4 separate regions of the Homo sapiens genome follow, and regions 2, 3 and 4 are each linked to region 1. A link means that fine-mapping ties the variant in region 1 to the plasma level of a protein whose gene starts in the linked region. Region 1 holds a variant in brackets. A gene starts in each other region. All regions are shown on their reverse strands. Distances are from middle to middle.

Evidence for each region. PIP is the posterior inclusion probability: the model's chance that the variant is causal. Protein levels are from antibody-based Olink assays in UK Biobank. Linkage for the fine-mapping came from a reference panel and not from the study's own genotypes, which makes the PIPs less certain.
Region 2: GDF2 starts here. The variant in region 1 is fine-mapped to the plasma level of the GDF2 protein (UK Biobank, PIP above 0.99).
Region 3: LRP1 starts here. The variant in region 1 is fine-mapped to the plasma level of the LRP1 protein (UK Biobank, PIP above 0.99).
Region 4: it holds the start of BMP10, and the variant in region 1 is fine-mapped to the plasma level of the BMP10 protein (UK Biobank, PIP 0.99).

The regions. Positions count from the first base shown.
Region 1 is chr10:69,095,755-69,098,254 of GRCh38, reverse strand. It overlaps SRGN (serglycin), which reads right to left. Exons shown (of 3, transcript NM_002727.4): 2 at 1,024-1,171. Among named protein-coding and RNA genes, the nearest start is that of SRGN, 8.9 kb to the right of the region's middle. The variant G/C (reference allele first, on the strand shown) is at 1,048.
Region 2 is chr10:47,321,233-47,323,978 of GRCh38, reverse strand. It overlaps GDF2 (growth differentiation factor 2), which reads right to left and starts at 1,525. Exons shown (of 2, transcript NM_016204.4): 1 at 965-1,525. The coding sequence starts at 1,310.
Region 3 is chr12:57,127,024-57,129,769 of GRCh38, reverse strand. LRP1 (LDL receptor related protein 1) reads right to left here and starts at 1,287. Exons shown (of 89, transcript NM_002332.3): 1 at 739-1,287. The coding sequence starts at 805. RefSeq lists an enhancer at 1,627-2,280.
Region 4 is chr2:68,869,765-68,872,510 of GRCh38, reverse strand. It overlaps BMP10 (bone morphogenetic protein 10), which reads left to right and starts at 1,114. Exons shown (of 2, transcript NM_014482.3): 1 at 1,114-1,486. The coding sequence starts at 1,153. RefSeq lists a silencer at 1,138-1,298.

The DNA of each region.
Region 1 (2,500 bases):
TCATTCTTTTTATGACCCAATAATATTCCTTTGTATGCTTATACCACATTTTGCTTATCCATTCAGTTAATTATTGGATTTTTATATATAGTGTGTTCTGTTTACACAAATAAAACAATGTTCAATCATTTTCAATACCTGTTGATGAAAAGTCCTCAATGCTCCTCTCTACCATCCACAAAAAAAATTTCAAAAACATAGGTGAATCATGTATACTCGCACATGTCATATGCCAGTATATACAGTACACTTTTACCATGTACTGCAGAGTAAGAGCCAAACTACCAAAGCAAGAGCTCGAAGCAAAACACTCTGGACAGCTTGAAGAAAAACACTCCCACATCTGTGCCAAGAGGTTGTGAAATTACAGACACTTTAAAATTAGAGAAAAGGCCGGGTACAGTGGCTCATGCTTGTAATCCCAACACTTTGGGAGGCCAAGGTGGGTGGATCACCTGAGGTCAGGAGTTTGAGACCAGCCTGGCCAAGATGATGAAAGCCCGTCTCTACTAATAATACAAAAAATTAGGCCAGGCGCAGTGGCTCACGCCTGTAATCCCAGCATTTTGGGAGGTCAAGGCGGGCGGATCACTAGGTCAGGAGATCGAGACCATCCTGGCTAATAAGGTGAAACCCCGTCTCTACTAAAAATACAAAAAAATTAGCCGGGCGTGGTGGCGGGTGCCTGTAGTCCCAGCTACTCGGGAGGCTGAGGCGGGAGAATGGCGTGAACCCAGGAGGTGGAGCTTGCAGTGAGCCGAGATTGCGCCACTGCACTCCAGCCTGAGCGACAGACTGAGACTCCGTCTCAAAAAAAAAAAAAAAAATTAGCTGGGCATGGTGGCAGGCGCCTGAAATCCCAGCTGCTCCAGAGGCTGAAGCAGGAGAATCGCTTGAACCCAGGAGGCGGAGGTTGCAGTGAGCTAAGATTGCGCCATTGCACTCCAGCCTGGGCAAGAAAAGTGAAACTCCGTCTCAAATAAATAAGTAATTAATTAATTAATTAGAGAAAAGTCCACTTACGGAAAAAGGTCAGTCCTCAGACGG[G/C]GGATCTTGTTGGATTCACCTGGAAGTAGTTCGAACATTGGTCCTTTTTCTTCAAGGCAGTTTGCAGAATTACTGTCTGGATTGCAGCGCACCCATTGGTACCTGGCTCTCCGCGTAGGATAACCTGCCCGAGGAACCCACATTGTTACTAAGTATCTACTACACAGCTTCTAATCACTCTGTCCTAAGAAGTTTTTATTTTTATTTTTTTTTCGAGACAGGGTCTCAGTCGGCTGCCCAAGCTGGAGTGCAGTACTGTGATCATAGCTCACTGCAACCTTGAACTCCTGGGCTCAAGCCATTCTCCCACCCCAGCCTCTTGAGTAGCTGGGAATACAGGGGCACCACAACGCCCAGCTAGTTTTGTTTTGTTTTTGTTTGTTTGTTTGTTTTTTGGAGAGATGGGGGTCTCACTATGTGCCCAGGCTGGTCTCAAACACCTGGGCTCAAGCAGTCCTCCTGCCTTGGCCTCCCAGTGTGCTGAGATTACAGGAATGAGCAACTGCACCCCACCCGCCCTAAGAAGGTTTTAACTAAATAGATTCTAAATTTGGTAAAAGGCAAAATGTAGACAGATTTTGTGCCCATTCATATAACAGCAGCACCCACTATGTGCCAACATTTTATATAAATTGTCCTTCTTACAACACTCCAAAAAGTAGCAGTTTAAAGTTAGAATAGGCTTTGGAATCAGCTGCCTGGAGTGAAGTCCCAGGTCTGCTGACTAGTTATGGAACCTTAACTTCTCTGAACCCTCACTGTAATATGAAGATACTAATAGTGTCATAAGCCTATCACAAAAATTAAATGAGAAAATACACTTAGAGAATTTAACACAGTGCCAGGCACACAGTAAGCACTTGATAATATTAACTGTTGTTACTTTTGTACTATTATCTCAATTTTACACAAAAGAAAATTGCAGCCACACAGGCGCTAGGATTCCAACCCACATCTGACCCCAAAGCCCACATCTTTTCATAGAGATGAGTCAAATCAGGTTCAGAAAGGGGAAGGAACACACTGTGGAGTACCCGTGGTATCACAGAATTCTAGTTCTTGTGTTTTAGGGCCATACAGTATCCTTAGGAATGAAAAGTAGATAACAATTTGTCCTGTGTCTTTGCACTCAGATTTCACAAGAACAAGTCTCCTCTATTCACAGAGCACCAGGCAGCTTGGAATATCTGAGTCTCAGCTTCTTCTGAATTTCATTTCTATGGAAAAGGCTCCAAATCTGATATTATGAGGTTATATAGGAGATTTATTTATGTATTTATTTTATTTTATTTTATTGAGAGAGAGTCTTGCTGTGTCGCCCAGGCTGGAGTGCACTGTCACGATCTCGGCTCATGGCAACCTCCACCTCCCGGGTTCAAGCAATTTTTCTGCCTCACCCTCTGGAGTAACTGGGATTACAGGCACTCACCACCACGCCCAGCTAATTTTTAGT
Region 2 (2,746 bases), 22 Mb after region 1:
TGGCAGGTTTTGAAGTGCCAGTCCTGCCTCTGCAGACCAGTTAGGTCTGGCCTGGGCGTGGTATGGAGCCAGGCCCCTTAGCCATTTGCAAGTCTCAGACCCAGGAAGGGAGAGGCTCTGTGCTCCTGGACATTCAGAGGGAGACAGCAGCAGCAGGAAAAGCCAGCTCTGCAGGCAGACAGGTTTAACACTTCCTAGGTGTGCAGGCTTAACACTTCCTAGGTGACATGGGTGGGTACCCTTGGTGGCTGCAAGCTTTGACTGAACAGTTTTGCTCTTCAGAAACTTATTTCCCCTGCATCATGTGAGCTTGTCTGAGTTAGGACATAGGTCCTAGGTCCGTGTTTGTTATCTTCTAGTCCTTCTAAATCAGATATATTTCTATTTAAAAACAATTAGGTTCTCTGCCAACACTTCTCTGTCCAAGAATTTTATCTGATTTTTAAAACCGTTTCATAAGAAAGGAATAGATGTGCTTTGAAAATTTAAAAATATCCCAGTTAGTTGGAGGTGAAATAGGTTGCCTGTTCTGTTCTGAAGTAGGAAGGGGACAGGAAGGGAAGGGGGAAAGGAAGAGAAGTGAATCAGAGGGGAGTGATGCAAAGAAGAGGAGAGTAAAGAGAAGGGGTGGAAAAAAGAGAGCTGGCATCCCTGTGCACCTGCTGTGTGAAATGTGGCACACAGCTTGGGGAAGGTGAATCCTTCACAACAGAAGTGCTGAGTAGAACTCTCAGTAACCATGGAAATGTTCTTCAGTCTGCACTGCCTGATAGGGAAGCCATTAGCCACGCATTTGAAAGGAAGCTGGTGAGGCTAAAGAAATAAGTTTTAATTTTATTTCATTGTAACTAATTTAAATGGAAGCTTGAAGAGCCTCCTATGGCCAGTGGCCTCCACCCTGGGGAAAGCAGCTGTGGACCTGTGAGTCCCACCCCAGCGCGCATGGTGCAAGCGGAGACCCTACCTTCCATGCTGAAGCTCCGCACAATGTTGGACGCTGGCGTAGTCGACTTATCGGACGTGTACCTGTTGTACAGGTCAATCATGTACTGCGGCGGCTCCACCCTGGTTTTGTCCTGCGAAGGGACCCCACTCAGGTTAAGGCTGCGCAGGAAATCCACCTTCACGTTCTCCAGAAACATCTTCAGGTTGAAGGTGTGCTCAGGCAGCCCACCTCCAGGCACCCCCAGTGGGCTGTGGGCGTTTCCCCCAGCAGACCCTCGTCCCCAGCTCTGCAGTGGCTTCCCCTGTAGGGAGCCAGCCAGCAGGGACAGCAGGGGCAGGGCCACCCACAGTGCCCCAGGACACATCTTAGGCCCGCGCAATCACCCAGAGAGGAGACTGCAGGCGGCCGTGCTGTGTTAGCGGGCACGGGGAGGAGCTGGGAAGGAGCGGGCCGGCATCTCCCTGCTGTTTGCTCTGAAGGAACCGTCCTGGCCAGCACCCACTCTCACCCGCTGCCGGGCTGGATTGTCCTCCACTTGTGCTTATCTGGTCCTCGATGCCGCGCTCCGACGTCTTATCTGAGGGAGCCTTCCGTTAATGAAGGCTCTATAAACATCTGACAAACACACAGGGCATGCGGGAAGGACACGGCCTACTGTAAAGAATCTGTGCTTCTCCAGGGGGTTATTGCCCCCTAATTAGGATACTTTCTCATTTCCTTGCCAGGGCTCTTCAGAAGAATCTCCAGGCAGGGTGACATATGCTCCATCTCCTGGGCCACAGGAGTGAAGAATCCAGGAAACAAGACCAAGTAGTCCTCCAAATATAGAAAGGACAGCACAAGATCACAGTGAACCGTGGGGGCTGGGGAGATGGGGAGAGTGTGGGGACCACATCAGGGCTCAGAAGAGGCCTGCTCCTTGCAGAATCGGAACCTGCCAGCAAGCCTCCCTGCTCTGTTGGTGGGATGCACTGCTGAGCATTAGAGATCACGAGTGAATATGGCTCCCGTGCAATTTAGTGCGGTGATGAGTCAAACTAGACACAGGCTGGGATCTCAACTCCCTCACCGATTCCCTGCAAATGTCACCTGGAACAAGTCACTGCAGCTCTTGGAGCCTCCCATTCAGAAGATAGTTATAGGGGTTAAGAGGATGCTGTGCCCCAGGCTGGCTTGGTGGCTGCATTCTGGATGCCCCCTCTCCAGCCCAGGCCTGATTGAGCTGGAGCTGGGGGAGGAAGCCCTGGGTTCCCCCAGCCTGCTCTGTCGGAGCTCCACAACACACTGCAGCCTGTGGGGAGCTCCCCACATCCCTGCATCCCAGCTGTGTCACTGGTCTGTTGTGGGGTGGTCTTAGCTCACACCAACCTGGCAGCCACCTGGCCCACACTCATCAGCAGGGAGAACCACGCAATCTGGTAGACAGGGGAGTAGGTGGGTTGTTCTGAGAGTGGTACATGCCAAGAAGATGATCCCCTGGCCTTTGGAGGCTGATAAGCTGTGGCCCAGGAAAGGGCCCCAGGGACTGCGTTAAGAGCAGTATGTCCACACTTAGACTCTGTCCATTTCCATCACGTGTGGCTTTGAGCAAAGCAAAGAAGGATCATGGTTAGAAACACTCTGGGGTATGCTGTGCCTGGTGGTTTACTCTGGGGAAGGTATTCTATGCTGGTGAGGCTGTCCGGGAGAGGCTGCAGAGAGCTGAGCAGGTTTAGGGGGGTGCAGGAGGGGCCACAGCATGCTGCGGTCAGAGATTGCAGAGGGGGATGGGTGAAATCAGGAGCCCCTGAATGGCTGGGC
Region 3 (2,746 bases), not on the chromosome of region 1:
CAGTGATGACATCTGACGTTTTTTCATCTCAAAGCTCCCAGGAATTAAGAAGGAAAATTCAAAGTCACATAGTATGGCGAGCTCCCCCTCTCTGCCCCCCAACACAGCCCTACCCCAGGCTACTGACAGAGGCCCTGAGAGGGGGAAGAGCCTACTTCAGCACCCAGGCCTCCAGCCGGGGCTCTGGGGTCGATTCCACGCCCAAGCAGGGGGCCCTCCCTCTCCCCACCCACAGCCTTCCCGGGCCTGCCTGCCCTCTGCCCGGCAGGGTACCCCTGGCCTGGCTCCCCTTTCGAGCTACAGAGGCCAGTGCAAAAGCCACCCCCCCCACCCCCACCCCCTTTTGCAGCCGAACATTGCAAATCCGGATTCCTTCACAATTCAGATGGGGGGTGGGGGGTTGTGAGGATGTAGGGGAGGCGGAGGCCCTCCCCGAACAGAGATAGGAAAAGAAGGCCTCTCCTCCCCAGGATCAGAAAAATGGGGAGCCCTCTTCTCTCTACCCAGGCCTCTGGTCTTTGTTTGTGCTGGGGGGCCCCGGAAGCATCATTTGCCCAGGGCCCCCATCCCCCAAATCGGACCCCATCCCCGCCCCCAGTCGGGCCGCTGCTGTGTCAGCTGGACTGGGATAACAAAAGGCACCCCCTCCCGCGTCTCCCTTCCCCATCCGTATGCAGGAGTGGGGGCTGGGGAGAGGGTGCCCCCAGGGGTCCAAGGGGGACGCGGAATCTCACTCACCGTCGATAGCCGCCGCGACCAGAGCTGAGAGCAGGGGCAGCAGCAGGAGCAACGGCGGGGTCAGCATGGTGTGGGCTGATGCAAGCAGCAGCCCCTTCCCCTCTGGTCCTGCTACTTCTCTCCTTCACCCCCCCCAGTTGGGGGGTCCCCCTTTTCCTCCTTTCCCCCTCCTCCTTCTCTGTTCTTATTCTTTCCTTCGGCAAAGCGCACCAGGGGCGTGGGTGAAGAGGTAGAGTTCCGAGCCCCTTGGGGAGGGCCTGCTGACGGGGGTGCGCCCCCTGCCCCGAAATCCAAACCCTTCACCCCACCCCCCCGCTTCACTCCTCGCTGCTCTTTCCCCCTCCCCGGGCGAAGCTCACAGCCCCATCTCGGAGCCGCCTCCGGCTGCAAAAATGCACAATTGGGAGGAGGCGGGGAGGGGGGGTGGGGGGCGTGGACCGGGTAGGGGAGCCTTTGGAGGGGGCTTGATGGAGCTCTGGGGGCTCCCCTTGTTTCCGCCTCCTCAGTGCATGGGCCTGGAGCTCGCACCGCTGTTCCCCGGACTGAAGTGCCGAGGGGGGGGCTGATGGGGGAGAGGGAGGGGACGGGTTGAGGAGGGAGGGAGGGAAGGGGCGGGGAAAGAAAAAAGGTTGGTGGGTGGGGGGAGAAAGAGCTACGCGGCAATCCAGTGAGTGCGCATGCGCCGATTTGACGCGCTGCCCGGGGGAGGGCGACGCGGACCCGCGACAGGGTTCGGAGTTCTGGAAAGCGGTCCAAGAGTGAGGGTCCCGGGGACTCGCTGGCTAGTTTGGGGCCTGGGGCGCCCTCTCCCCTGGCTGGGCCCTCCTCCCTGGTGCTCCAGAGAGCAGAAGGGGTCGAGGGTGGGATTGGGCAGTGGGCGGAGAGCTGAGCGGCTCCCCTTTGAAACTCAGTGTCATACTCTAGGATTTCAGGCTCCCTCCGGGGGCGTCCGGGACTCAGTGGTCTGGGCCGAGGCTCGATTTTCTAGGGGAACCCTGAAGGTGCCTCCTCTGCCCGGGGTGGGGACAGGGACCGCCAGTCCGCGGGGAAGGTGCAGGGAAAGGCTGAGCTTTGATTTGGAGACTTTGGAAGACCGGACTGGGATTGGGGCCTGCGAAGGAGGGGGCGGGGTTGGGGAGGGACCGCGAGGACCCGCCCCCACCTCGCTCCCGGGCTCGGAGTAAACAGGGACACCCGAGGGGACACGCCGGAGCTTGTCCGCCCGCGTGGGGCTCGGGGATGGAGCCCACCTTAGTACCCGCCCGCCCTGCTCGCCCAGCCCTAGGCGCGGGAGGGGCAGGCCCTGGTTTGGAGGGAGGTGAGTCACCAGCGGGTGGGGTTGAGGAAAGGCCACCCCCTTTCGCCCAAGAAGTCGGGGCTCATTTATTTTTCTGTTTTTTTTTTTTTTTTTTTTTTTAATACCTTCTGACTGGCTTGCCATCAAGTTAGGGTTTTAGATTCCGAGCGCCAGGATTTGGAATAAGATGAGGGACTCTGGACCTTCGTTTCCAGGCCTCGGGTTCCAAGGAGGTGTCTGCTGAGCGCCGGACCTTTGTCCCCAGGCTCAGCCCACACGGGAATGATACTTTGCAGAAGGCAGGCGCCAGGCGGTTCCCAGGGGCCAGTGAACGTGCTTTTGGTCACTGCCCCCTTCTGGGCGGCGTTTTATGGCTGTTACCTTAGTGTCTGACTTTCTAGGTGTCTGCATGTCAGAGTTCAAGGAGCGGGGCAGACGACGTCGGCTGCCAAAAATTGACGCTGGAGAGGAGGGACTGTTCCCCCTTTTACGTTCTAGTTACGGAAAAGTCCCCACTCCAGTCTGTCCTTGGCAGAAACAGGAGCAGCACGAAGGACTTGCCTCCTAATGACAGTGAGCTCAACCTTTAGCTTCTTCCAGCCGGCTTTGCTCAGCGCGGTGGCCACCTGCCTTTAGTCTCCTGGGCTAGAAACCTCAGACTTTATGCCAACTCAAGGGGGCCTTTCCTTCCTATATCCAATCTTGCCAGCC
Region 4 (2,746 bases), not on the chromosome of region 1:
CAAGCTTTTGCTGGAGCCTCTTGATGACAATTTTGATTGAGTCAGAAGGATGAATTTCGCAGAGATGTTGGTTATATTAACAACTCATTGCACAGATGGAGGACCTGAGGTCCACATCCAGCTACAAATTTCTGCCTGCCTCCTGCCTCCAGGCTGATCTGGGGACGTGTTGGCCTCTCAGCATTATTGCCCATGCCCTAGTCTGGTAGAAGAGTGGTTTAAAAGTGTGACTGTTTTATTCTTCATAAGAATCAGGCTGCCTTGGTTGAAATTGTGGCCCCATCACTTTGCAACTTTGTGGCCTCTGGCAAGCTATGGCACTTCACTGACCCATATATGTGATGGAGATAATGATACGGTTATTACAGGAGCACACTTGATGATAGGTGTAAAGCACTCAGTACAATGCCTGTTTGTAGGAAGCATCTAATAAATTCTAGTTGCCAGTATAACTAAGCACTTGCCCTATTTTTCAAATGCTATTTTAGCCAGATCAAATAGGTAGGAAAAAGCCTGTCAATCATGAAGTTTATACTTTCCTGTTTCTAAAAAGGTACACTTCTAAAAATTTATATAATTCATTTATAGCTATTAACTTAAACTTGGAAAGTTTGGATATTTGGTCTGTCTTCACAAGTGTTTATCTGAGCCCTACCTCTCAAATTAACATGTATCACCATTGATGTGCATTATGTTGATTCTTATACCTATTATATGCATGTGTGAAACTAAGCCCCATAAAAACAGAATTTAGGCATTCCTGCTGAAAGGAAGTGAATTGAAGGGAAGAGAAGCAGAGCCTTTGCAAAGAGAAAATTGTCCTATCTCTCAACCAGTGTCAGAATGTGGAAATGTTTACAAAATGCTCATTAAAAGAAATAGGGATTGCAAGATAGAAACAAATTCTGGTGCACAAGTTTACACTAGGGAGATAAGAAAGGCTAGGCCCCTATAGGGGATTTTGTTATCCAATTACTGCAACCTGACTTTTAGGGGGAGAGGAAGAGTGGTAGGGGGAGGGAGAGAGAGAGGAAGAGTTTCCAAACTTGTCTCCAGTGACAGGAGACATTTACGTTCCACAAGATAAAACTGCCACTTAGAGCCCAGGGAAGCTAAACCTTCCTGGCTTGGCCTAGGAGCTCGAGCGGAGTCATGGGCTCTCTGGTCCTGACACTGTGCGCTCTTTTCTGCCTGGCAGCTTACTTGGTTTCTGGCAGCCCCATCATGAACCTAGAGCAGTCTCCTCTGGAAGAAGATATGTCCCTCTTTGGTGATGTTTTCTCAGAGCAAGACGGTGTCGACTTTAACACACTGCTCCAGAGCATGAAGGATGAGTTTCTTAAGACACTAAACCTCTCTGACATCCCCACGCAGGATTCAGCCAAGGTGGACCCACCAGAGTACATGTTGGAACTCTACAACAAATTTGCAACAGATCGGACCTCCATGCCCTCTGCCAACATCATTAGGAGTTTCAAGAATGAAGGTAAGTTTTTGCTGATGAAATTTTGCTAGGATTTTTTTCAAGACACAATAAGTAAATTTACAATGCATGGGAATGATATAGGTAAGGGTAAATACATCTATATAAGGATGTTAAATACATATGGATACACAAAAACAAGGCACATTTTGTTCTATACCAATTATATAGTCATTTCAGGAACCTCGAAAAATACTTACAAACATCTTTTAATCCAAAGCCACAAAACATCTATCAATTTGACATCATAATTGGGTCCTTTTAAAAAATGTTAATTTGAACACCAAGTAATACAAAGAATTAATGTTGGTCTACTGCCGTACCTTTGTCATTTTCCAAATAGGCCTTGATTGCCATATGGGCTTTTAATTAACTAAAAAATTTCTCAACTTCTACTTAGAATAAAAAGGGTAAAAACAGTCAAAAAACATCAAATTGTGATTTGTGTTTTGTTCAAACTTTTGATAAGTTTTTATTTTGTGACCTTATTTAAGAAATGTTCAAACAGGATGGAAATATATTTTAAAGATTCTTCCTAAGGCTGTGTTGTTTGATGTGTCATGTACATCCTTAAAGCACTGTTTACAGTTTCCAGGAAGTGTAGATGGCCCATTAATCATCCAGCTCATCATTTCCGTCTTTATAAAGAGCAACGTACAAGCTTTGAATTATTGGTGGGAAAAGTGTGTTTTCTTCTCTTAGGTCTTTAAATTTGGTAACTAAATCTAATGAGCTAGCAAGTTAATGTTTTTGTTTGTTTGTTTGTTTGTTTGTTTTTTGGTTAATATGGTCCTAGTAGGAAAAAAAACCCCTGATATCTAGATATCTATAGTAGAAGCTGAAGGTCCAAAGGAACTAATTTAATTTTTGCCAGTTATGCTTTTATAGTCACTAACCAGGTATAAAAGAAGCTTCCCGTTAATATTGGCCAGATGTTCTTGAAAGAAGAAAGGTAATAGTGAAGAAATAGCTCAGGATTTGGGATTTTGAGAGCTAGTTGGCTTAGTGGTTGTGAATAATTAGCTGATGCCTCAGAGCCTCAATTTCCTCATCTATAAAGTGGGAGTAATAATACCTACATAACATAGTTGAGTGACTCAAAGGAGGTTACAGATAAGAAAGCACTCCATTTACTATGAAGTGCTGATCAAACTTTAGTGACTACTAATGAGTTACTTAATATTCTAGGTACTGGAATAAATGTTGAGTAGGTATTCCTTAGTCCCTAAGATATTATCTCCCTTTAAAATTGAGTTGGCTGCC